Linked DNA regions of Homo sapiens. The protein of the gene in region 2 purifies or fractionates together with the protein of the main gene of each other region. This does not show direct contact. Each region holds a gene or a part of one and is shown on either strand. Other genes may lie near its edges. The genes, in order: PAG1, CCR1, GNG10 and GAP43.

Region 1 (7,034 bases), on a different chromosome or scaffold from region 2:
CCCAAGGAAATTTTCACACAAAGCTTGGCCTTTGCCCTCAATATAGGTGTTTTAGGATGGTGACAAACCATGGCTGCTGCTTTCTGCCCAGCTCGCCAGTCCTCCCCAAAGAGTTGCGCATCAGCACCTGGGGATCTGGACCCTGCGGGTGAAGGGATGGGGAGGGACGTCCCTGGAGTCTCTTCTGTCTTTGTTCCTTCTTATTTTGGCATTCGATATCAGCAGCCTCTCCCCAAAGTACTTGAAGTCAGTTTTAGATGCTTTATTTTATTTTTCTAGTCAAAAACGTGTTTCCCCCAGTGTTTGAAAACTCGTCCGAATCTTTTCAGTATTTTCCATGAGTATTGTGGTACTTCTAGACTTGTTTAAGCCCAGAACTCATTCCTTCAAAACAGAGAGCCTTAATCTTTATGTTGGGACACAGACCACATATTTGGACGGCAGCCATGCATCCATCGCTGAAGGGCTGTGGACATGAATGTGTATTTCCCATGGTCTCCGCTGCCCACACCAACAGTGTGGCATCTCATAAGTTAACTGCTACCCTAAGGTAATCTAAGATTAAAATGTAAACATTTATTTTTGTTATGTAAGTTTATAAGATGTTTTATGTTCAATGCCTAATTTCTCAAAAGTGCCAGAAAAAAATGTATATTAGCTATTTTGATTTTATGTACAATGATTTATACTCTCCTTTTGAAAAGATACCATAAAGCACATAAGCTAGATCACTACAAGGAGCTGTTATCTTTTTTCTAATCAAGTGTTTAAAACACTGATGGTTTTTAAAGACTCACCTTTTTAAATGGTACTTGGAGCTCCTGATTCAAATTACCTAGACCCCCTAGAGAAATAAATGGAATATACATAAATAATCATTTTCAGTGGTTTATGGTGGGCAATATTGCAATATTTGAAATGGTAAAAATGGAAAGAAGAACAAAATATGATGAGAGGTGGCTGTGAATTATAAACCTCATAAAAGTGTCATAATTCCATTAAGGTTTAATTATATTTTTTCAGAAAACAGTGATGAATTCTGTAGTCCAGTGCTTGCCAATGCAAATTGCCTATTGGAATCTTCTTCCTATATTTTACAAACATCAGTGGCTGAAATAGCTCAGAGTAAGAGCTCAGCCTGGTTTGAATTTAATCATCTCTTTAGATCTTATAAGGCCAGCATTAGGAAACTTGTTCACTTTTCATTTTCAAAGGAGCCTAGTTGAAGTGCTATTATGAGTGTGGGCTATGGAAAGACAGCTTTTCCTACACTGATAAAGAAAAAAAATGAGGAAATTATTTCATCCCCTTGTGACATCTGTGACTTTTTGGATTTAATAATCTTGCTGTTTTTCCTCTTTATGACAAAGAATATAATTGGGAGGATGAAGTGTCTTAAAAATTGTAGAGACCAGCTCACTGGAATGTTTTTCCATCCCTGTATTCATGGCTTGACTTTGTGACTGCTCTACACTGCATGTCTGACATTGCAGAGTGAGCTATGTTGAGGTAAACTGGTTGGTTGTCATTATTTTGCAATCAGCCTGGTCTCTCCCATGAAGATGTCGTGTGCATAAGCACAATCATCACTGATTAGAAGATCACAGCAGAATACCCTTGGATTAGAGAGAAGTTCGTACCTTGCATTTCTCTGAATTCTAGTCTCTCATAAGCACTGCTTTGCTGGATGATTTTCACTGCTTTGTGTTAATGACTTTGAGCGATCTCTCACATGATGGGGTTCTTTAGTACATGGTAACAGCCATGTCATCTTACACACCTAGCATTGTGAATGCTGTAGTGACATCCTTTATAGGCACCTTACAGCTCAAAACTTTTGTTTCATTTCATGCCTTACTTATCAAAAAGGCAGGAAAGTAGGTATGATCTCTAAAGTAAAAAAAAAAAAAAAAAAAAAACTTTTTATAGAAAGCTCATAAATAATCATGTCATTTTGCAATTTTGTTACCAAAATTTCCCCCAAGAGTTTTCAAATATTAGTTCTGCAATGTGGCTATGAAATATGCACTGAAATATACCTTTTAATTTGAGAACCAGTGGTTAGAATAAGCTGTGATATAAAGTATTTTCAGTGTACTTTTAAAGGAACTATAAGGCCCTCCAGCATAAACGCTAAAAGAATAGATGGTAGCACAGGCCATGAGGGCTGGGGGAGAGAAGCAGAGTGAACCTTAGAAAGATGGCTCAGCTATTTGGAGCACTGGATATTTTACTGAAGTTATTTACTGAGGCACCATCACTGTTTTGACTGTACAGTATAGTTTTTCATAAATTTCATCACATTTACTTTGTTCAGAATCTGGGCTTGAATCTTTGAGTTGGACAAAAGCCTATGGTTTCTTTTAAAAAGTTTCATCTTGAGCTAATGCTACAGTTTAAATAAAATGTATGAAAGGTAGTTATCAAAAACAATTTGTATATTTAAAATTCTATTTTGACATCCATTTTTTACAGCGAATTATAGCAGGTTATGTGAAATTTAAAAATAAATTTTAGGAAATTTTTTTATCTTGTAAGTAAGAATTATAAATCTATCTCAGTTAAAAGTAGGATCTTTGTTTTTATTCAGATATTTTGAAAGTTTAGAAGCATTTTGTATGCTACTTTGGTATTTCTTAAGTATAGTCAGCAGGAAAGGGTAACCTGTTTTATGCAAAATTTTTTTAATTTGTCAAATGTTTTTAGTGTGTCTACTTTCTGAAATAGTCTCAATATCCTGTCTGTATCCTAGGCAGATAACTACACAAGAACAAAACGCTATATAGAAAAGAAAATATTTGAGGAAATCTTAAATTCCATAAGAAAGTAATTCTTGCAAGAATGTTGGCTACATATTTTTTTTTCTGTCCTGAATAAATTACATCATTAGGTCTGTTGAAGCTTTTGAAGCTACCACTATTCTTTCTGGGATAAAGGCTAATTACTGATTTATCTGCCCTCAAAATCCCAGAGTTAATTCTAATTGAGTACTAAATTAACAGTAAGTAGTTAACACAGAGAACTAAAATTTAACCGCATTATATCACTGTATATATTTCTCATGATTTTTGCTAATTAGAGCATTTACTTAACCAGTAATAAACTACACACACACACACACACACACACACGTATACGTGTGTGTGTGTATATACTTGGCTCTGACACAACTCTGGTGCTTAATTAGGATATGTTCTATTATGTATTTTGAATGTTTATCCTGCTAGTGTGATGAACTTTTGTTGGAAAAGCAGAATTAGAAGGAACAGTTTTTCAATCAGTTTCATTTGGTAATTACAGGAAAACCTTGAGTTGCTCTAATTTAATTTTTCCAATTAATACATTTAGACTTTAAATTGCATCCGTAATTCTCTTGGCTGAAAAACAGTGGTATTTTAAGACAGTTTTGTTATACATGTGACTTACTTTTGACTCAGCCTGAGAGGAGGAAATGTAAAGAGATAAGAGATTTGGCCCAAAGCAGCAAGAGACTAGTAACCTTGAGCCAGGACGAAGCCAAGACAACGTGACTCCCAAGTAGCAGGAGCAGAGGTCGGTCACCTGTGGCATTCTGTTTCATTCCCTTTTAAAATTATGAGACTTTATAGGCAGTGTAAAACATCAGCAGGCAGCGATGTGATAGGATGTGCGAAAAAGCTGGTCTGATACCATGGCTATAATTACAGAGCTTTAGTTCAATTAGGATTTTGTAAATGAGCAAATGACCTTTTTTTCCAGTGCCCCTTGTAATAGTTAATATGAGTCCATGCAATCTTGTGATGCCATTCTCCTGAAGGTGTTGATTTCTGGTACCCAGCCAGCTTAGCTTTGGCTGCTGGAAGCACAGTAGGTACTGATGATTACTTCCTGGAAATCTTGACAGGCTTATTGTACTGTGTAATGGGGAAAAGTTAAAGTATAATGTTTGGTGTTAATAAATGACTGATGTGAAAATAGGAACATGTGTCTTTAATATCAAATATGGCTTTATTTGCAGTGAAATCTAAATTCCTTATTCTACAGTAGTATTTTCTTGCCCTGTGTTGTATATTTTCCTAAATACATTTTTCCTGACAGTGGCTTTAGGCCAGTTGAACACACTTAGACTGAAAGTGTTTAACTTAAAGAGATCAGTCCAGAAACCATGATAAATTAGAATCTTTATCTGGAATTACCAAATTAAAATTTAAAATCATGGTCCAGAAGAGAACAAACATTCATGGTTTTTTTTATCCTACTGCTCATTTTTAGGTCTGTGTTTACATCTAGTCTCTACTATTTGTGAAGTATGTCATTATTTTTTTCAAGTTCTTCTTTGACTTAACTGAAAAATAATATTCCAAATTCTTAATGTAACATGAAAAGAGAAATACAATTTTTGCTTAAAAGACATTTTTTAAAAAGCGTTCAATTCAGTAATCATTTCTGTTAATACAGGAAGTTTTTTTGGCTTGCCAGTTATATACTGTGGGTATTTTTTAAAATGTGCTACCCTTGGGTTGTCTCATATCACCTTGCGTAATCATGTATTACAAAGGTTGATAATTGTCATTTCTCAGATGTCTGTATGTTACATTGGCAGCAGTAAAATGTTTTAATGTTGTTACCTTTTAAATAATTGTGTTGTATTAACATGCCTCATATTTTCTGGGGAAACTTGAAATATATCTAAACAAAAAAGGTCTGTTATAAATAGGAATTGGCATTTCATTGTTAATGTTTTTTCCTCATAAAAATAGTTACACCAAAAGTGACATATTGTCTATTACATGGGCCCAATCAGTATTAAAGTACTCCCCTTACTCAAAAATATTAAAAAATAATTCATGACACTTAGTAGCATTTTCATTGATTGTTTCAAAAGATCTTCATAATGGTCAAATTGTCCAATTCACAAAAGAGTGAGAAAGTTGTTTTCAGTACTGGGAATTTTTAAACCTTAGTTTTAAGACCAAAAATATCTCTTATTAGCTTGAACATTTTGTGATTACTTTTCCCTCCCCGGATCTAGTCCTTTTAAGGAGTAAGTCTAAAGAATGAGGCCATGAAGTCACTATTTCCTCCCACCTCAGTTTGTCTCCTGGTACTTAGCTGGCCTATCGCTTTGTGTGGCAATACCCCTGGGTCGCTTCCCCACTCAGCCTTCTGTATCTGCTGTTCACAGGACATGCCATTATGTCTTTCCAGTACGGATCACAGTGCTGCCATATCACAGACCCTGCCAGCCGGCACAGAACCATGCCTCGTCACAGCTCTGCCCAACTCACAGGCTGCCAAGATGAGGCCACAGGTCCACCTAGGGCGGCAGATGCTGGTGCTATTTGTCACGACTTTTGCCAAAACATGTACACTGTTGCTCACATCTTTCGTAAGAATGGTTGACACTAAGGGGCCATGGAAAAGCACTTTTAAAAAATTATGTGGTGGAATCAAACTCACAGAGGCAGAAATGTTAGTGCCGTGCTCTAACCAAGTAAGCTTAGTGTTCCCCACAGTGATCTGTATCTGGCCTGAGTCTCCTCAAGCAGCAACCCCCACTGTCCAGCATGTGGAAGGTAGATCCTTATGACAACACCAGACCCATAGTTACCAGGAAAGAAAAAGGAAGCTGAGTGTTGTGAAGGGGAAGAAATCCTTTTTATAAGAAGTAATCATTTTTAGGCCGGGTGCAGTGGCTCATGCCTGTAATCCCAGCACTTTGGGAGGCTGAGACAGGTGGATCACTTGAGGTCAGGAGTTTGAGACCTGCCTGGCCAACATGATGAAACCCTGTCTCTACTAAAAATGCAAAAAAAATTAGCCAGGCATGGTGGCATGTGCCTGTAGTCCCAACTACTCAGGAGGCTGAGGCAGGAGAATCACTTGAACCTGGGAGGCAGAGGTTGCAATGAGCTGAGATCGCAACACTGCACTCCAGCCTGGGCGACAGAGCAAGACTCCATCTCAAAAACAAAAACAAAAAAAAAACCTTTTTAAAGTAAATTGAGTGTAAAATGTTTTCACCATGAAGCCATTGCACCCTCTCCCCCAGGAAACAGTGCCTAAGGATGATGTCAAGTTACAGCCAGTTTGCTCTGATCCCCCAGGACCTAAGAAAACTGTGAGTGCTTCAGCATGCAAAGGTAGAGCTACCAGATAAGGAGAATAACTTGGCCATTTATAGCAAACTGCCTGACTTTGGAGTGAGAAACCAAGCACCTTCTAGGTCCTAGGATAGGTGAATTGGAGGTGCAGCTGCTGAAGTTCCCATTTTCTACATACTTCAGGAGCCAGGGTGTTTCATTTGGTTTTGTAAAACTTTGCTGTAAGTCATCACAGTTAATTCTTTGAATGGACATTTTAGAGTGTAACTTTTTTTCAAAATTAGCAGAACAGATATCTCTGCTCATTCTCTTTATACATTTAGTTTTTTAAAGTTCCCCTAGTATACCTGTTAGGCACTCTAAATAGGACACAGTTAAAGCTAAAAGAAGGACCAGTTGCTCCCTAGAGCCTACAGTTCAGAACTATCTTGTTGTCATGTCCTGGTTTGGTTTGGTTTGTTTTTAACTCAACAAGTTGGAAACCATGAGTTTAAAGCAAACTATTTCCTTTTCTTAAGCTTAAAGAGAATTTTTTTTTTAATCTTTAGCTCCTCATTTAGGTAGTGAAGGCTTCCCTGAAAGACAGCAGTGCCCTTCTCTGGAAGAAGAGGCTGGGACCAAAAGCCTGAGTCTATGGGTTGAGGATTTTGAGCATTCCTTTGACAAGCTTCTATGTATTTTTAATATAAGACTCATAAATGAACCTGATGTGGTGTTCATGACCCATCCCTTAAGCATGCTTGCTTTTTTTAACTTTACTTTTTGAGTATAGTACTTGTCTTGTTTTTCCTGGAGCCATGCTAGGATTTAATTCCTATGTGCCACTACCCGCCCATGTCCTGGAAGATGGCCATGCCTGCAGCAATGCTCATGTCTTGAGGAGAAGCAATGTGAAAAGCATCAGGAAAGCTGAACCTTACGTTCAAGTCAGCAAACATTTGTGAGCATTCT
Region 2 (4,137 bases):
GGGTGTAAGCCCAGGTGGCATGACCTCCTCTATCCCAGACAAAAGTTTTCAAGACCATCATGACACCAGCTTCTTTGTACAAAGACCACATGTGAACACAATTCCCACTGAAGGGGGTGTGTGGTTTGGTAAGAGTGCAGCTCTAGTGTCCACAAAAGGAGAAAAGTCAGCCCAATGGTGTCACTGTATTGTAAGGTGGGACACCCGTCAGCTTAGGGTGTCTTCTGACTGATGATTCCTTCTTCCCTTTTACTGCCTTGGCACCCTGAGCTCTGCAGTCCCCCCAACCCCCTGCCATGCTGCCTGGGCCCTGTTGGCATCCCTGTGTCTGTCTGGCTCACTGAGCTGAGCACCCTGCAAGAACAGACATTCCTCATGCACCAGTGTCTCTCATGGCTCAAGAGCTTGCTTTGAATGGAGCCCACAGTCATCACTGCTGGGTTGAACTGATTTGTGCAAGCAATAGTGGGTAAACAGGTGGAGTAAATTAGGGTGCATCCCTGCCAACGACTTCAGTGCAGGCACCAAAAACAATGCTTTGAAATGATTTATTCACCTGGGAAAGTGATCACAACTTGCTGCTAATTAAAACCAACAATAGAACAGTGAGTACAATTGAAGTCCATCATTGTTATTATCATAAATATGCACCCAACAAAAAACAAACTAAAAGAAAATACACTCAAAAGCACACAGTGGGCACATTTTGTCTTTGGGTAGTGGAAGTGTAGGTAATGTCAGTGTTTGGGGTTTTTCTTTGAATTTTTAAGCTGTTTTAGAAATAAGTTTTGTTATTAGGAAAATTATTTTTAAAGAAATATACATCTGAGGGAAAAGAGAACAAAGGCATGATAAATAAGGGGTCCTTGGTTGGAGATGATGCATCCAGAACATTTTGGATAAATAAGCTACTTTGAGTTAAGGGCCTTCTCGGCCTCCTACATCAACACAGAATCTCACCCCACCCTCCTAGTAGACACTTTCCTCCCAACCCCCTATCAGCTACAAATACTGTCAGCTTACACAGCAGGCCTTATTATTATTATTATTTTTTTTTTTTGCTGACAAGTCCAAGATGGCAGTCGGAACTCTGACCCATAAAACCAGAAGGCTTAGATGAAGAACAAAAAGAAGGGAAACCAACCCTGCTTCCTTTTGCCTGTTATTAATCGCTGCAATAAAGCCATTAGAATCTACCAACATATCACCCAACTTGAAAAGAAGAGAGATTCTGAAAAATAGTCAGAAAAGAAGGGTAAATGGAAATGATGAGTCCCTCCCCTTTATGGCTATTTTAAGAAGCACACCATGTTATTCATATGGCCCGTGCTTAGCCCACTCCCTGAATTGTTTGATTTTAGTGGATATAAAAATTCTTCCTAAGGGCTTTCTTAGTTCCACTGCCAGCAGTAGTTCCCCATTTCTATTTCTCGTTAGGTCTCAACTCTTCCGTCATGAGTTCTATGTTCCCCAGGATTCCAAGAGCCCAAATCCTGCGGTGGGAGTGAAGGGGAGGCAGATGCTGGCTACTGATTGGCTCTGGGACTCAGAGTGGAGTCACTGTGGAAATCACTATTTCCAAGTTCTTTGGCAGTGGGAGGGTGGCGGGGGGGGGGAGGTGATGGAAGAACAGAAATTCCTCATACATCAGTGTCTCCCATGGCTTAGGAGCTCACTTTGAATGGAGCCCACAGTCACCACTACTGGGTTTAATTGGTTTGTGCAAGCAATAGTGGGAAGTGGGTGACTTTGTTGACAAATGCTAATGGTCACAAATCTGAAATCTTGCTTGAGTCCAAGCCCTTCTCTGGTACACTTAGTCCCAGTCTCTGGAATATTTGGTTTTGCTCATTCATCTTCTTTCTACCAGGGGAGAAGTTCATGGAAAAGACTGAAGCCCCAGAAGCCTCAGAAGCCCCAGGCCACCATTACATTCCCTCTCTATCCCAAGTGGCTGTGACTCCATGCTGTGCCAAGAGTCAGAACCTGGCTGGGAGAGCCAGGCTGCTGGCTCAGTGTGCCTGGCAGGTCACGCCTGCTTATTTTGGGTTGGCCTCCTATGGTCTGAGTCAGAACCCAGCAGAGAGTTCATGCTCCCCTGTGGAGGGAGATGTGGAGCTGACCCTCTCCAGCCTGTCCACGGAGAGGAAGGGGAGCCATTTAACCAGGTGCACAGCCACACGCCTGTGGAACAACTGCCGCAGGTACTTCCGGAACCTCTCACCAACGAAGGCGTAGATCACTGGGTTGACACAGCAGTGCGTGTAGGCGATCACCTCCGTCACTTGCACAGCCAGGTCCAAATGTCTGCTCTGCTCACACTCATGGGTGAACAGGAAGTCTTGGAAAACAGAAATAAGTATAGTCAAATTGTAGGGGGTCCAAAAGAGAAAAAAGATGATCATGATGACAAAAATCAAACGGACAGCTTTGGATTTCTTCTCATTTGGTCGTCTTAGCAGAATCTTTATAATCCCTGTGTAGCAGATGATCATGACCAACAAAGGCAATACCAGCCCAAAGAGGTTCAGTTTCAGAGCCTGAAACAGCTTCCACTCTCGTAGGCTTTCGTGAGGAAAGTGAAGGCTGCAGGTGTGGTGAGTGAATTCCCATTGGGTCTTGGAAAAGTATAAGCCTGGCATGGAAGCCAAGATGGCCAGGGCCCAAATGATGATGCTGGTGATGACACCAAAAGTGACGGTCCGTGCCCGCAAGGCAAACACGGCGTGGACGATGGCCAGGTACCTGTCAATCGTCAGCAGGATGATGAAAAAGATCTCGCTGTACAAGCCTGTGTAATAAAACCCAGAGAGGATCTTACACATGGCATCACCAAAAACCCAGTCATCCTTCAACTTGTAGTCGATCCAGAAGGGAAGCGTGAACAGGAAGAGCAGGTCAGAAATGGCCAGGTTCAGGAGGTAGATGCTGGTCATGTTTTTTAGCCTCTTGTATTGCACAAGGACCAGGACCACCAGGATGTTTCCAACCAGGCCAATGACAAATACCAAGGAGTACAGAGGGGGCAGCAGTTGGGCCCCAAAGGCCCTCTCGTTCACCTTCTGGCACGGAGTTGCATCCCCATAGTCAAACTCTGTGGTCGTGTCATAGTCCTCTGTGGTGTTTGGAGTTTCCATCCCGGCTTCTCCTACAGGTTAAAAAAAAAAAAAAGATTTGTCTTTACTCTGCTACTAAAGGCAGTGGGCACTGGACAGTAAAGACAAGGGAGAGGTAACATTTTTTCAGCCACTCCATAAATGTTTATTGAGTGCCTTCTGTGTACCATGCCCTGGGGACAAAATGGAGTGTTAGAGAGACCCAGATCCTCTCTGCCTTCTAGGAATCTTAGTCTAACAGGGAGTGGAAGCAATAAGTAAATGAGTGCACAAATCATTAATTCAATCATTTCAGCAAAGAGTTTTGTAAGGGATAAGTTCAATGGGTGGAAAGCCAGAGGGAGACCTTACCATACTATTCATAACCAACACTTCCTAAGCACCCCCATGGCCTAGGCACTGGACTTAGGGTTAAAGAGCCCTGGAGGGGTCCCATTGTTGTTCTTATTTAAGAGGTGATGAAACAGAGGTTCAGAGTGGTTAGGAAACATGTTCAAGGACACACCTCTTGTGAGAACAGACCTGGAGCTCCAACCCAGCTGTGCATCATTCTCATGCCCGGCCCTGACACCACTACGCTTTCCTGCTGCTGTCCCCGAGCAGTAGCTTTGCACTGTGGAGCCCACAGGAGGACTCTGAGAAGGAAAATGGTCCTGGCTCAGAGAAAGATACAAACAGATATTCATGGCTTTTGGTCTAAGAAGATTCTCAGCCGAGAGTGACCTAGTACCCTTGGGGCACTTGGAAATGTGTGGGCATTTGTTGTTGTTGTCACCAAAACTGGGGGATGCTACCGTCATTTGGTAGGCAGGGCCAAGGATGTCCTACAGTGCAGAGATCATTCTACCCCAAACACCAGTGGTGTTGCCATAGTGAAATCCTAGTAGGTCAACCCCATTATTTTGGAGATGAGGACACTGAGGGCACCAGAGTGGGCTGAGCCTGACCCACATTGCACAGTCCTTAGGTGGCACAGGTAGATCTAAGGTCACTTTGCAGACCTCCTGAAGGAGAGGAAAGT
Region 3 (7,280 bases), on a different chromosome or scaffold from region 2:
GGTTGACTGGGCAGGTTACTTTAACCTGTGAGCCTTGTTTTCTTTCATGTAAAGATACTATTTCAGACAGTTCTTAGACGATAACAAGGGTAAAATGCCTGGCATATATTAAGTGATCAGGAAATGTGAGTTATTTTGCCTTCAGAGGGAATAACAAAGAGTCTCATTTGTTAAAAAAAAAAAAAGCATGGTAACAGGAGTGTGTTTTGTGATGATTACAAACCCATTGTTTATTCTTTTAATACATATTTTAATCCCTTGTGCAAGGCACGGTGCTAGAGTGAAGGAGTGATGCTCCTTAGGGTTGGAATTGTGTATTTTAAAAAGCAGCTGCCTGCCCTGTTGCCACCAGTGTGCAAGGTGGAGCAGCCGAGATGACGACTCAGGAAAGAAAGAAAAACTTTCAGAGATGACAGAATGATCAGCAAGTTGCTAGTCTAAGGCCTACATTTAGTGAAGGGACATTTTCAATGTAGCAAACAGATATGCTTAGAATGGTTGCTCAAAAAGACATCTAATAGCCCTAAGTTCTGCCGTCTCCCAAAGTCTCAAAAGTACCTGTGAAAATCTCTCCAGAAAAGCCATTCTGAATCTACAAACCTGCTGGTGATTCTTTCAGCTCCTGATTCATTATTTCTGGGTTCTAAAAATAATGTAATAGGCAAAAAGAAGTAAAATAATTTTTATAGTACATGATACTGTGTCACATTAGATATAGTTATTAATGTGTTTTCCTACTCTTAATCATTTTGGAAACTATAGATGGTATATATTATTGTCATTTTGATATAACATTGGCAGAAATATCTTCCCATTATGTCATTATTTTTATGGAGAAGATTGACTCACAAACCCCTTTCCTGGAAGAATAATCCACTGTTAGTAGACAGGTGATAAAATACAAGTCAGAGGAGTGAAGAACTGTAGCTCCTAACAGGGAAACAAATGAAACATTTGTCATTACAAGGGTAATGACATTTCTAGAAAGTTTCTTGGAAATGAGATAAGTTTGTGCTTAACCAGGGAAAAAAATGTGTGACAAAATTTGAAAGATATTCTACTGGTTACCCATGCATTTTAGCTGTAGTGAGAAGGAAAGAAGGGTACTCTGTCTCCATCCCTCACCTTCCAGAGCTCTGGAAATCACAGCACATGTGGGAAAGGCCTCTGGTCCTCTAGGTAAACCTTGAGTTCTTTGTTTGAGACGGAGTCTTGTTCTGTCGCCCAGGCAGGAGTGCAGTGGCGCAGTCTCACTGCAACCCCCACCTCCCGGGTTCAAGCGATACTTGTGCCTCAGCCTCCCAGGAATCTGGGACTACAGGCATATGCCAGCACGCCCGGCTAATTTTTGTATTTTAAATTAGCCAGGCGTGGTAGAAACCCCGAAGAGACGGGGTTTCACCATGTTGGCCAGACTTGTCTTGAACTCCTGACCTCAAGTGATCTGCCCGCCTTGGCCTCCCAAAGTGCTGGGATTACAGGTGTGAGCCACCGCGTCTGGCCTGAATTCTCTTGAAAGCTAAAATGAAATTCTTTTCCCTGCTCCCACTTTCTGTGATACTGGGCAAGTCACTTCACTTTCCTTAGTGGATCTGTTTCCTCATCTCTGAAATTGTAGATGCGCCGCACTATCTGATGGTTCCCTTCAACTTTGAAGTTCCATGATGCAAAAATAATGGATGAGAAGTCTTGTGGGGAAAGTGTGGAGCATCACACAGATGGTCAGCCTTCCTCAAGTACAAGTGGCGCCCGGCCTGCTTATCCATGGATCACAGACCATTCCTCTTGAACGGTGCAAAGTAACACTGAGGTGGGCGGGGCAGTGGGTGTGTAGGGCATGAAGGAGGCAGACACAGCACACCCCTAGACTTTTCCTGCTACCTCGTGGCTGATACAGTATGACATGGCTGACGTGTGTCCCTTCATTGAGGGCAACTCCAAAGCCTTCATTTCTAATGATTTTGAGGTAATCTCATTATTTCAGCTGCCATTGCTGTGGAGACATCTTCACATTAACATCTTGGCTACTAAACATTTTCAGCAGCCTAAAGGCATGTAGCAATGCCATGGAAGTCACTTCGTTACTCCTAAACCAAACCCCACATTATTTTTTACTCATCTCAAGCCAAGTCTTGTTTCCTAATTTCTGTTTTGGCATTAGTTCTGGCCCACTCTCTGCTACAGAACCCTTTGTCCTCTTTTCTTTGCATTTCATAACCACCATGAAGTACCACTGATTTTGTCTTCTAAATTTGTTCCCCCTCATTCCTACTCTAACAGTCCTACCCAGGGCCTCATTCCAGCTACTCCCCCACCATCAGCCATTTATCTTCTCAACTTCAGTTCATTTTGCACATTCATCTCAGATTAATATTCCCAAAATGCCTTACCCTGTGGCTATCCCACTGTTTACCATAAACTTTTGTGTGTATGTGAGGTTTTCTATGACTTCTGGCCCTAGCAACTTTGTATCTGCTATTAGTCACTAGAGCTTCCTCTATTTTTAAATTTATTCACTCTACATGTGTGCATCGCCTCCAGCTGTCCTCCATACTGGACTGTTCTTCCTTCTGAGCCATCTGCAAGACACGTATCTCCAAAGTCCAGCTCTCACGATCTATGATGAGCCTTTCCTAATCCAGTATGTATATCTTTGCACTGAGTTCTTTGCCATATCTTTTAAATATGAAATCATTCTATTTTGTCCTATTCATCAGTCTCAGAATTGATTGTTGAATGTTCCCAACATGTACTTTCATCTCTTTACTAAGATATATATTAATTTCTTTGTGGTGAGGAAATTGGCCACTAGAGAGGGCTTTCAAATGTGCAAGTCTCCCTTTGGCCCAGGCACAGCTAATCTGAGCACGTCAATGCCACACATCCTTGCCTTCAAAGAGTAATTGGGCCAGGGGTGGGCCCATGACTTAATACCAGCCAGTGAGGTTCATTATGGGGATTTTTGCTGGAACGATTAGAAAGAAAAGAGGTACTATTTTTCCTGGGTTTGCTAGATGGGGACAGTGAAAGTGTGGTGCCTTCCTTCATACCACTAGAGAAGTCCATCTACCACCAAGGAAAATGAGGCTAATCTCAGGAAAAGCAGAATCAAAACAAGGAGGATGAGAGCCCCAAAATTATTATTTGGGTAATTGAATTCACTAGTTTAAAGTCCCTGGACTTTTCAGTTACACAAGCCAATATATTACCTTTTGCAATATTCAGTTTAAGTGAGTTCTGACAAATACAATGGTGTACAAGAATAATGACGTATTAATGATACATGGAAAAAAGCAACACAAAAATTTTAAATATAGTAACGATCCCAGTTTTGTAAAACACTTATTAAAAAATGCAGTAGGCCTATAATGCCAGCACTTTGGGAGGCTGAGGTGGGAGGATCACCTGAGCCCAGGAGTTCAACACCAGCCTGGCCAACATCGTGAAACCCCGTCTCTACTAAAAATACAAAAATTAGCCGGGCGTGGTGGTGTGTGTCTGTAGTCCCAGCTACTCAGGAGGCTGAGGCAGGAGGATCACCTGAGCCCACGAGGTGGAGGCTACAAGGAGCTGTGATCACGCCACTGCACTCCACCCCGGGTGACAGAGCAAGACCCTGTCTCAAAAAAAAAAAAAAAAAAAAAAAAAGCAGCAGAATAGAAACAATGATGACAGTTAAATGGTGAGATGAGAGTGAGAAACGCTGAATTTAATTTTATTCTGTATGTTTCACAAAGATGTCAGGGTCTGGGATTTTATCCAATTTACCATACTCCACCAAATCAACTGGTAGGATCTCCGTGAAACAGTAACAGGGTCATTTAGAAACCTGTTGCTGCCTCATGAAAATCCTATGAACTCTCCTTGGTTCCCCGGTGATACTGTCTGGCAAGGCCCCTTATCTCTCCAACTCATGTCACACCTTGGCTCCAGTTCTCATTTCTCAGGGGTGCGTGTTTGCTGCCGCCCACTCCATCCTCGCGTCCCACGCCCTCGCGATTCCTGCTCATCCTAGGGGCGCCAGCTTCGCTGGAGGACGCCGCGCTCTGCGGGTCCCCGCCTCGGTTCCAGGCCCAGCTGCAGGTGCCACCCAGGTTTCAGGCGCTGAGGAGCGGAGAGCACTGCCAGCTCGCTGGGGTCCCCGCTGTCTCTGGCAAGCGGCTCCGCGCCGGGTGGGCTGGGGCGGCGGGGCGGGCGCAGCTGCTTCCCCGCCCCGGGGCGGCACCCGCGCTCGGGGCTGGCGGCTCCTCCCCGCCCGGCCGGGCCCAGCAGCCCCTAGGAGCCCAGCGCCGCCGCCATGTCCTCCGGGGCTAGCGCGAGCGCCCTGCAGCGCTTGGTAGAGCAGCTCAAGTTGGAGGCTGGCGTGGAGAGGATCAAGGTGCGGGCCCCGGGTACCCACGCTCCGGTCCTTCCGCCCGCGGGGCGTGAGAAGAGGAGGCCGGCGGCCCGGACCGGGCGCCAGCGGGGGACTCGGTGGCGGCGGCGAGGCCTCGGCGGGGCGCGGGGGCGGTGGGGTCCGCGGTGAGGGAGGGCGCGGGGCAAGCCGGGGGCCCGGGCCTGACGGGAGGAAGCCGCGCCTGGGGGGCCCCGCGGTCGTGGTCGGTCCCGGTCCCTGGGGGTGCGCCCACTCCAGAAGGCGGCCGTGGTCAGTTCCTCGGAGGGCGCAAGGGATGCCGGCGACGCGCGGGCCGGGAGGGTGGACCCAGGGCTGGGGAGGCCACCGCAGGGCGGCGAATTGGTGATGGATTGGTAGGATGAGAGCGAGAGGGAGGAGAGCCAGGATGCTCGGGTTTCTGTCGTCGTGACAGGGTGGACGGCGCTGCCACCCGCCGAGGTAGAGAGGAGGGGGAACAGGTTTGGGGAAATGATGAGTTCGGCTGCGGACCTGGGGACTCCGGGGAGTCATCCGGGAGGTATTTGTCCTCATGGCCTGAAGCTCAGCGCCCAGGGCTGAAAGAGGTCATTCAAGTGCATTGGGGCGAAAAAGCCTCTTCTATGAAGAGCAGAGCTCAGAGCCTGGGACCCGGGGACCAGCCACACCGATGGCCGGTGGCCGAGAGAAGAGGAAATAAGAGACAGCAAGGTTTCCGAGCAAGGCCTAGAGAAGAGGAAATAAGAGACAGCAAGGTTTCCGAGCAAGGAAGTAGGGATTTCCAAAAACTGGGGGCTCAGTCAACATGTCCAGCGTTTAGTCAGTTGGCTAAAAGGCGTCTGTTGTAGAGCTGTGTTTAGCTACGAGTGCAGCATTATTTGCAGAAGATCTGTAAGAAGGAACACAACCAGGATAGTCCCTGTGCCTCAGTTTCTCCTTTGCTGTGTGCCTGGCACTGCTACAGGGAATAGGGTGGTTCTGGAGGGGAAGGTAAACAGCAACTTAACGGATACATAGCATCGCTTCATGTACTAAGTGGAGTGAAGATAATAAACAGGGTAAAGGGAGAGAGGGCTGTGGAATGCAGAGGTCTGGTGGCTTATGTGTTAGTAAAAGCAGAATCTGGACTGTCATAGGGTAGGCAGACGTTTTTTCTTTTTAAAGAAACCTAGTTTTAAAGAGGAAATAACGTGTTTTTTTAACTTAGGAAATGAAAAGCCATGTTTTAGGGTTGAGAGGAAGTAACAAATTATATTTTTAGGTTCCAGGGAAGAAACAAATGGAAGCCAATTGCTGGTAGAGGAGACAGGGCTACGGGGGGGTGGGGGATTGGTGGCACAGCTTCTGAGACAGGAAGAAAGAAGGTAAGGGTGTGTGTAAAGATAAGTTTCTAGATATGGGCTAAACTTGTATGGTGACACTTTTCTTTGTGAAATAGGAGGCCAGGTTTTCTTCTAAGGCAGAGGAAAGGGGACTAAGGGAGTGGCCCCTGAGCAGGCACGCAGATGCGCTGTGACTGAAGACCCAGCTGCTGTGACAAGGGAGACTGCTGGTCATATTTGTGATTTTTTTTTTTTCCTGCAGCAATCTTTACCATCCTGGAATGTGAGTGCTGAAGGTGAACGGTAGTTGAAAGAGGAGTAAGTTAGCAGGGGAGGTATGCCAGAAAGGTGGAGGTGGGGCCGGAGGGCAAGGCGTGTGAAGGTCTGGCCAGAAAGAGGCTGAGCCTAGATGGATAGAGAAGGAATGCAGCCAGCCTCCTGGTGATAGGTGAGACAGAAGGGGAGGAGGTGATGCCTGGTGATCTCGGTGAGGTCAGAGCAGAATAAAGGAAGAATAAAGGAGGCAGCACCCTGGATGGGAAGGAGAGATTGTGATCAGAGAGTAGGATACTGGAGTGTAAAATTTCAGAAGTGGAGCAGTTACAGGTGTTGTAACTGTATCTGTTGGCATTGAGGAGAAGGCTGTTTGAGGGGAAGAAGTCAGGGAACTGAAATGAGGGTTGTTGGAAATTCACAAAGACAATGTGGGGACATGAGGTAGAAAGGAAAACTGTGAGCCAGTCAGATGCCTGTCTACCCGCCAAGTAGCTAAGAAAGAGGAAAGATATTCTTTTTTTTTTTTTTTTGAGATGGAGTTTCATTCTTGTTGCCCAGGTTGGAGTGCAATGGCATGATCTCAGCTCACTGCAACCTCTGCCTCCCAGGTTCAAGCGATTCTCCTGCCTCAGCCTCCCGAGTAGCTGGGATTACGGGCACCTGCCACCACGTCCACTAATTGGCTTTTTTTTTTTTTTTGTATTTTTAGTAGAGATGGAGTTTCACCATATTGGCCAGGCTGGTATCGATCTCCTGACCTCAGGTGATCCTCCCGCCTCAAGCTCCCAAAGTGCTGGGATTACAGGCATGAGCCATGGCACCTGGCCGGAAAGATGTGCTTATCTACCTTTTAAAAATGATGATGAAACTGAGAGCCATATAATTCAGGTGAATTGCCTGAGCTCGCAGTAAGCTTATTTACAAATAGGATAATAAGCCTATTTAAGAGGTGCGCTCATGGAAGTATGATCTGGGGTACTTGGCAGGGCTTCCCTCAGACAATACCTTAGAGAGTCACAACCATTCCAGGGTCTGGTCTACCTCACATCCTCATTCATTGTTGGATGTGCTTAGCATAGCCAGAGGTGTCTTCTCTTTGACAGACTTGCTATCTGAAAAATAAACCAGGACACCAATTTTCTAGCATATAATAGAGGACATCCCTTCCCAGCTATAGGAATGCTTGGTATCCTTCCAAGAACTCCTCCTTTAGAGGAGCCTCACAGAAGTTGCTGGGTAAACATGGGCTCAAACCAAGGAAAGTCAGGTAACCTGGGTGGAGGTTATCCCACCACCAATGGCAGGGGACA
Region 4 (7,262 bases), about 69 Mb from region 2:
ATTTGACATTGAATCATATTTTGTGCACACAGTGTTTGCTTTGCTTTTCATGTACGTGTGACTTTCCTTGAGGGAAGGATGATTTTTGCAACATAGAAACTATAGATTAAGTGAATGAAAACAGCAAGTATGGACAGAGAAAGCAGGTGTTTGGGTTGAATTATGTCCCCCTTATTTGCAAATTCATATGTTGGAACCTAACTCCCAGTACCTTAAGATGTGACTGTATTTGGAGATCTTTAATGTGACCCTTTACAGAGAAAATTAAGGTGAAATGAGGCCATAGGTGTGGGCCCTAATCCAATTTGATTGGTGTCCTTATGAAGGGGAGCTTACGATACACAGGGACAGAGAGCAGAGGTGCACATGCACACAGGGGGGCAACCATGCCATGTGCAGAGGCAGCAGAGGGCGGCCAGCTGCAAGTGCAGGAAAGAGGTTTGGAAAGGACCTTCCTTTAGGACTCTCAGAGGAAACCAACTCAGCCACCAGCCTGATCTTGGACTTCCAGACTTCAGAACTGTCAGAAATTACATTTCTGTTTTTTAGGCCACCCAGTCTGTGCTATTTTGTTACGGCAATGCTAGAAAACTAATGCAGCAAGTAAAAGGCTTAGATTAAGCACTGAAAAAATAAGAGAAGAGGCCGAGGTGAGAGGATTGCTTGAAGCCAGCAGTTTGAGACCAGTCTAGGCAACATGATGAGACCTTGTCTCTACAAAAATAAAAAATAAAAAAAAAATTAGCCAGGAGTGGTGACGTGTACTTGTAGTTCACAGAAGGCTTGTGTACTCAGAAGGCTGAGGTAGAAGATTGCTTGAGCCTAGGATTTCAAGGTTGTAGTGAGCTATGTTTGCACCACTGCACTCCAGCCTGGGCGACAAAGAGAAAACCTGTCTCAGAATAAAATAGAATAAAATAAAATATAAAATAAAATTTAAAAAAGGGAGAAATAAGACTAACATCTTTTCTACCTGAATTGATGACATTGTCTTCTCTCAAGTACCAGCCATAATCTTAAAATGGTAGACTATTTTACAGAGCCCTTAGTAAAGGTCAGTGACTTTTGGTTTTATTATACAAGCAGTATCACTTTAGTATAAAGTTCAAAGAGATCTGAGCGTGGAACTGGGATCTGGCCTCCACCACTCTTCATCTTTTTCTAGAATGTTATTATTGTCTAACCTATAGTCAAGAAGTTAATTGATAGTATTATGAGTTAATTTGCTAATCTAAAATTGTAAAAGGGTTAGCCATGGGGCTTAAGCCTATGCATTGTCTAGGATTAGTTATAAAGTACAAGGATTAGTGGGTCTATTGTGTATTTGCTTGGCAAAAATCGGGACATCGGTTATTTTATTTTTTATATATTTTTTGCAAAGCTCATATCAGTTTGTGCTTGTCTCTCCCTTATTCTTTTGCCATCCATAACCACCATTGCTTAGAGAAAAAGATGCATTAGAATTGATTCCATGTTATTCAAATTAAATTTGGAATCTTAGGCTTCCAAATTGGGAGGTAATTTTTAAAGGTTCATTGACAGAATGTAGTATGTCCAGAGGAAGGCATCCAAAATGGTGAGGACCTTACACACTGAGACACCTGAGGGTAGTTGAAGGAGCAGACATCTCATCAGAAATACATAGAGGGCTCTCTATTGCATGAAGATATCAGCTTATTCTCCATGGCTCTTGAAGTAAGAGTTGGGCCTAAAAGATGGATCTTGCTGATTTCATTTCAACATTGAATGCTGATTTCATTTCAACATTAAAACTTCCACTATGTAGTTTAATCTCTTAAGGACTAGAAGTAATGAAGAGTAGAGGCCTATTAAGTGGTGATTGATGTAGCCTAGTTGTTAAGAGACATAGAGTCCTAGCTTTACTACTTCTTAGTTCTGTGACTTAGTCAAGGCACTTAACTTCCCTTAGCTTTAGCATCCCCATCAAAATGGGATTACTACTTGTGCCTACCTCATTTTGAGTATTAGATAAAATAATGCATGTAAACTGATGAGGAAGCTGATTCTGAGCTGGGTGGTTTCACATATTTAGTCACAAAGTTCATCAATGCTTGTGCCCAGTTTTAAGCCCTAGCTTGTTTAACTTCATTATGCCACTTTGTTTCCAAGGTTCCTTCCCATATATAAAGGGGGAAAAATATAAATGGGATGGCTGAGGTGAGTACATCGAAAGGGAAAGGAATTAGTCCCACTCTTTAAGTTTGGCCACATAGTTAATGAAATGGTCTTATCAATGGAGTTATCCTGTTTAAACACCAAAAGGTGCAATTTCTTCTCCATCATCCCCAATCCCCACATTCTCTGCCTCCTCCCTTCATTGCTCTTTAGCCACTAGCAGGCTAGGTAGGGTGTTCCTAATCTGCAACCGGAATGTTTCTGGTAGGAGCCATTTCTCACCCACTCTTTGTCCTCTTTTATCACTTAAAATCACGGAAGGCTGTTCTGAAAGCGGCTGGGCTCCTTGTAACATTAAAAAATTATTAAACTCAGAAACTAATTCTGTTTTTTAATCATAAATATGAAAACTAGGAAGCAAACTGAGAAGAATGAAAGACCAAATCAGCGGATCTGAAGCAGGCCACTCTCAGGAAGACTCCTGAGGAATAATTAAGGCTAATTTTAAATATCACCTCCTGGGTATCATCATCACCATCGTTCCCAGGTACCTGTCTGAGATAGTCCATTTTGAAATAGATATACCTTAAATTATGTTAAAATGTACTAAGCACTTATTGAGCTCAGTGATCCTGAAATATGCCTAACAATAAGCTGCCTAGTTGCCACTTATTAGCTAGGTTTATGTCTAGGAGGTCTAGGAGGGACTATGAAGAATATGAGCTGTTTAATTAGGGGTACTTGTCATCACTAATGAACAACAAGAAATAGTTTGAAAACTTCTTTGAGATATTCACTTGCAAATGTCACCCGAATTTCAGAAAAGTACAGTCTCTGGAGTAAAGCTATTATACACTCAGAGAGACTGTTGTGCTTTGCATGCGTTATATCATTTAGTCCTCAAAACATGTTGTCAAGATTGGCATTATTATCTCCATTTTAAAGATGAGAAAATTAGGTGCAAAGAGCTTCAGTAACACACTCAAACTCATTCAACAATAAATAACTAAAAATTGTGCTATACACACTTTAAGAGTCACATGTTCCTCCCCCAAAATTATGAAAGGCCATAGAAGGAATTCAAGAAGTAGGCTTCATGACTTATCGTTTCTTCTCATCTCAGATGAATTCACTTTAATCTCTCATGCCCAAATTGTAAAATATCATTTTGATCACCGTCAATATTACACAGACCTGTTTGAATGTGCTCAGCTTTTTCAGTAAAATTAGAAGAAACCACAATTTACAAACAGGTATATGTGCATTAAGGAAAAAACAAAAAACTACCATGTGATTTTAGATATGGATGCCAATTCTTAAACATTGTTTATTATTTCTGAGCTCAAGTGCTTAGAATGTTTAAAATGCAATATATTTATGTGGATTTTTTTCCAGGATATTGGAACATATATAAAATATGCTTGTGCATATCTAAGCTTTGTATTTATTTCAGGTTATATGTATACTGAGAAGAATATATAAACAGTGTATGATATTTACATGTTATTTCATTTTTTGAGGGAAATTAACCTCCACAATTATTAACTATGCATAAAATGTAATGGCAGATATGACTTATATTGTATAGGACTGACTACAATTCCTCTTTAGAAATAGCTGTTCTTTGCTTTTATAATACTAGGAAAAGAGGAAAAGAGTTCTTAAAGAAATACAAGGATTCCTCAAGCCCCTCTTCCCTAAAACATGCTCTATCATATCTCCTGGATTGACTGGAATATCCTTCTCTGCCCCCACCCCATCACCCTCTCAATGCAGTGGAAAAGTCGGTGGGTAATTGGGTCCAGATTGGAGGTGTTTAAATATTCATGAGGCTGGCAGGGGACTGGGAGGGGGCGACTGTCTAGAATGGGGGTAGGGGCTGGGGGAAGTGATTAGTCACTGAAGGCTAGAGAACAATTCCGAGAAAGAGACGGAGAGAGAGGGAAGAAAAAGACAGATAGATAGATATTGGGGGGAAGGAGAAAAAAGGAGAAGAGAGGGAAGAGAGGACAGCGGAGAGAGAGCACCAGAGAGAGAGGGAGAGAGAGAGAGAGCGCTAGAGAGAGGGAGCGAGCATGTGCGATGAGCAATAGCTGTGGACCTTACAGTTGCTGCTAACTGCCCTGGTGTGTGTGAGGGAGAGAGAGGGAGGGAGGGAGAGAGAGCGCGCTAGCGCGAGAGAGCGAGTGAGCAAGCGAGCAGAAAAGAGGTGGAGAGGGGGGGAATAAGAAAGAGAGAGAAGGAAAGGAGAGAAGGCAGGAAGAAGGCAAGGGACGAGACAACCATGCTGTGCTGTATGAGAAGAACCAAACAGGTAGAGCTAAAGATTTTTTACTTCTTGCTGTTGTGAAATAACCCGAGTACAGTATTTCCCCGTAAAGGCAAACAATTTTTTTACTGCTTCTGCTCTGGCCGTGGTGCTCGCGCTTCCTTAGCATATGGTAACTGATGGTTGCATCCCAGCTTTTATTCTTTTCTGTCTTTCATGCTCTGGTTTTGGAATGCTGCTACTAATTAGGGTGAGGGTAGAAAAAACATGCCTGTTTGGCTAGAAATAATTTTTTTTTTTCTTATTAGTGAATGCTCAGCATTTGAGGTCTCTGGTCTTGAGGGTGTGGACGTAGAAAGGGGTGTGGGGGAGATGATGTGGGCTCTACCTACAAGATGGGGAGGCATTTCTTTATATTATTTGCAAAAAAGCAGGGTTGAGGAAATAATATTCAGAACTGAGTATTGCCTCTCTGTCATACAATTTTCTCACATGTGCTGCGGAAGATGCCTTATTTCGTGCATGCATGAGCTTCGAAGGGGCGCAGGTATTTATGGAAAAACGTGCAGGTCTTATTTATTTAGTATTTATTTTTCAATGAATGAATGAAACTGTGATTTGATAGATTTTTTTTTTTTTTAAGAGAAGCTAAGACAACTGGGGCTGGGGGAGAAATTGGCCATGCAGAAGGAGAAAATCCCCTTCCTAAGATCAGCAGCCGATTGTGCACCAGCTGGTCGGAGGAGAGGGTGGACCACGCCCCTAGGAGCTCCGATGGGATGGGAAAGACAGCCGGGTATTACCTGTTGGAAACCAGGTCTTTTCTCTTATCCCCTTCCCTTGCTTCTTTCCTGGGATTGTCAGTGACCAGAGACAGGCTAACATCCTGGATAATAAGTATGGTGACTCATTTTCATCAGGAAGAGGGACACATCCAAGATTAGCAAGAATCAGAGCCCCTCCTTCCCTCCCCCACTGCCCAGGTTTTACAGCCATTTCCAATTGCTCGCTTATTTCTTGAAAGACATTTTAGAAACTTGATTGGGGTGAGAGTGGGAAGGAATGACGAGTGTGGTATTCCGCAGCAACCGACCATGCCATGGCAGTCTCCAAAAGAAGCTTTCAAACATTTGTTGGAATGCATTTGAGTGATTTTGGCAAAGGTTAAAGAGAAAAATGGGTGTGGGATACGGGTGAGTGTGTGCGTATGCTTGACTGTGGTGGGGGTGGGGGTGTGGTGGGGGCAATCTTGGTCAAAGAAGCCCTTCGCAGACTGATTGCCTTAGGGGTGGGGTGCAAGAGATGGAATTTGGGTATAATTTCCAGTGCAGGTATTGGAAATTGGGCAATTTGTAATACACTCCCTGAATCCGAAGGGGGTGGAAGAGAGTGGAGAAGAAACAGCCTGCCAGCTTAGCACATTTAGCCAGCGCCCTGGAAGGAAGGGTGGGGAGTGAGGATGAAGGAGAAGGAGCAGGAAGAGGATGGGAGACTGAAGCAGAATGTCAGAGCAGTGGGAGTAGAGATTTGGCATAAATAAATAAATAAATAAATAAGCAGACATCCTGGATTGTGTGGGGCTATTTGGGGGAAAAAGTCGGATAGTGGGGGATTGAGTTGGGGGCGGTATTTGCAGCATCTCCTGAAACTGCCCTATGGTTACAGAGATTGATGCTTCCATTGGCTCATTTTATCAAACCAGGGCATTTTCTCTCTGTGTCCTCCTTCATTTTAATATATAAATGTAATAAATACAGGTGTCTGGGTTAAGAACACTGTCAAAGAAAAGTCCTGAGGTTATTTCACTGGTGAGCTGGGGAAATAACATTTAGGAAGGTGGAGCACTAAGTAAGCCAAAGCCATCCACTTAAAAAGCTTTAATTTTGGAAAGAAAAATATTCAGGTTCATAATTTGTTCCCACCCTATGTGTACATATGCAAGTATACATACATCTCCTTTAATAAAGGAAATCATGTATGATTTTTAGAAAAGGAATTAGGGCTAAAGGAATTCCCTTCCCAAAATGAAGACAGCTGCCTTCCCTGGGGCTCTATCTCACCAACAGCCCCAAGCATTCACTCTGATGTGCAAAGTGATGAAGCTGAAATTGTGTTTAGAGTTGTAGAAATTCGCATGTAAATGTATACAGCATCCACATACTTCATATGCTACAGTTGCATGTGTAAGTGGTTTCCACATGCCTCTCTGTGTTTTAGCATCATTTATATTCAAGAGAAAATTAAAGGTATAGAAATTGTCCTACTTTGCTCATGCATTTTATAAATGTGTACTTCTGTGTGAAATGGTCATGTCTCTTATAAACCACTGTTGTGTATCATTCACATTAGCCAGTATTTAGGATACCATTCAATCAGACTAAAGGAAATGGTGTATTCAGGGCGTGGGCTCACACTACACTGACTGGCATTTATGTAGCATGAGTACTTAAGTCTCACGCAGGTTGCCTGCTTGTGGATGAAATTCTGTATCATTTATGACAAAATCCAGTGGTGCCCATCCTTCTGCTGGCATCTATTCATCATCGTAGTACTTAACAGGGAATAAAACAAGGGCAAAAACCTGCAAAGGTCTAAGCTCTGCCACACCCATAAAATCCAGCAGAAACGTGGGAGGGGGGCTGAAGGGCTTGCACTTCCTTCCTCTTCCACTTGAGCGGCATAAAGAAGCAACCTTGGATTTCTAAGTTGGAATACATTGCCAGTGGGTGAGAAGAAAGCATAAATGATCTCTATTAGCCATTAGTTATCACTATAGATTATTATAGCAGGAAGAAGAGAATGAGAGTGGGGTAGAGATGAGAATATGGTAAAGGAGTGGGCAAAGGAGGAATAAAAT

Evidence for each region.
Region 1: the proteins of CCR1 (region 2) and PAG1 purify together in Homo sapiens (affinity purification with mass spectrometry; 3 studies listed by BioGRID and IntAct, with this or other methods). This does not show direct contact.
Region 3: the proteins of CCR1 (region 2) and GNG10 purify together in Homo sapiens (affinity purification with mass spectrometry; 2 studies listed by BioGRID and IntAct, with this or other methods). This does not show direct contact.
Region 4: the proteins of CCR1 (region 2) and GAP43 purify together in Homo sapiens (affinity purification with mass spectrometry; 3 studies listed by BioGRID and IntAct, with this or other methods). This does not show direct contact.

What each region holds. Positions count from the first base shown.
Region 1 is NC_000008.11:80,969,038-80,976,071, reverse strand, and holds part of PAG1 (phosphoprotein associated with glycosphingolipid-enriched microdomains 1), read left to right. Parts: 3' UTR 1-7,034. UniProt on the Homo sapiens protein: Negatively regulates TCR (T-cell antigen receptor)-mediated signaling in T-cells and FCER1 (high affinity immunoglobulin epsilon receptor)-mediated signaling in mast cells.
Region 2 is NC_000003.12:46,201,177-46,205,313, forward strand, and holds the end of CCR1 (C-C chemokine receptor type 1), read right to left. Parts: intron 3,149-4,137; 5' UTR 3,138-3,148; coding exon 2,070-3,137; 3' UTR 535-2,069; downstream 1-534. UniProt on the Homo sapiens protein: Chemokine receptor that plays a crucial role in regulating immune cell migration, inflammation, and immune responses.
Region 3 is NC_000009.12:111,657,338-111,664,617, forward strand, and holds the start of GNG10 (guanine nucleotide-binding protein G(I)/G(S)/G(O) subunit gamma-10), read left to right. Parts: upstream 1-4,267; 5' UTR 4,268-4,297; coding exon 4,298-4,378; intron 4,379-7,280. UniProt on the Homo sapiens protein: Guanine nucleotide-binding proteins (G proteins) are involved as a modulator or transducer in various transmembrane signaling systems.
Region 4 is NC_000003.12:115,619,270-115,626,531, forward strand, and holds the start of GAP43 (neuromodulin), read left to right. Parts: upstream 1-4,240; 5' UTR 4,241-4,420; coding exon 4,421-4,450; intron 4,451-7,262. UniProt on the Homo sapiens protein: This protein is associated with nerve growth. It is a major component of the motile 'growth cones' that form the tips of elongating axons. Plays a role in axonal and dendritic filopodia induction.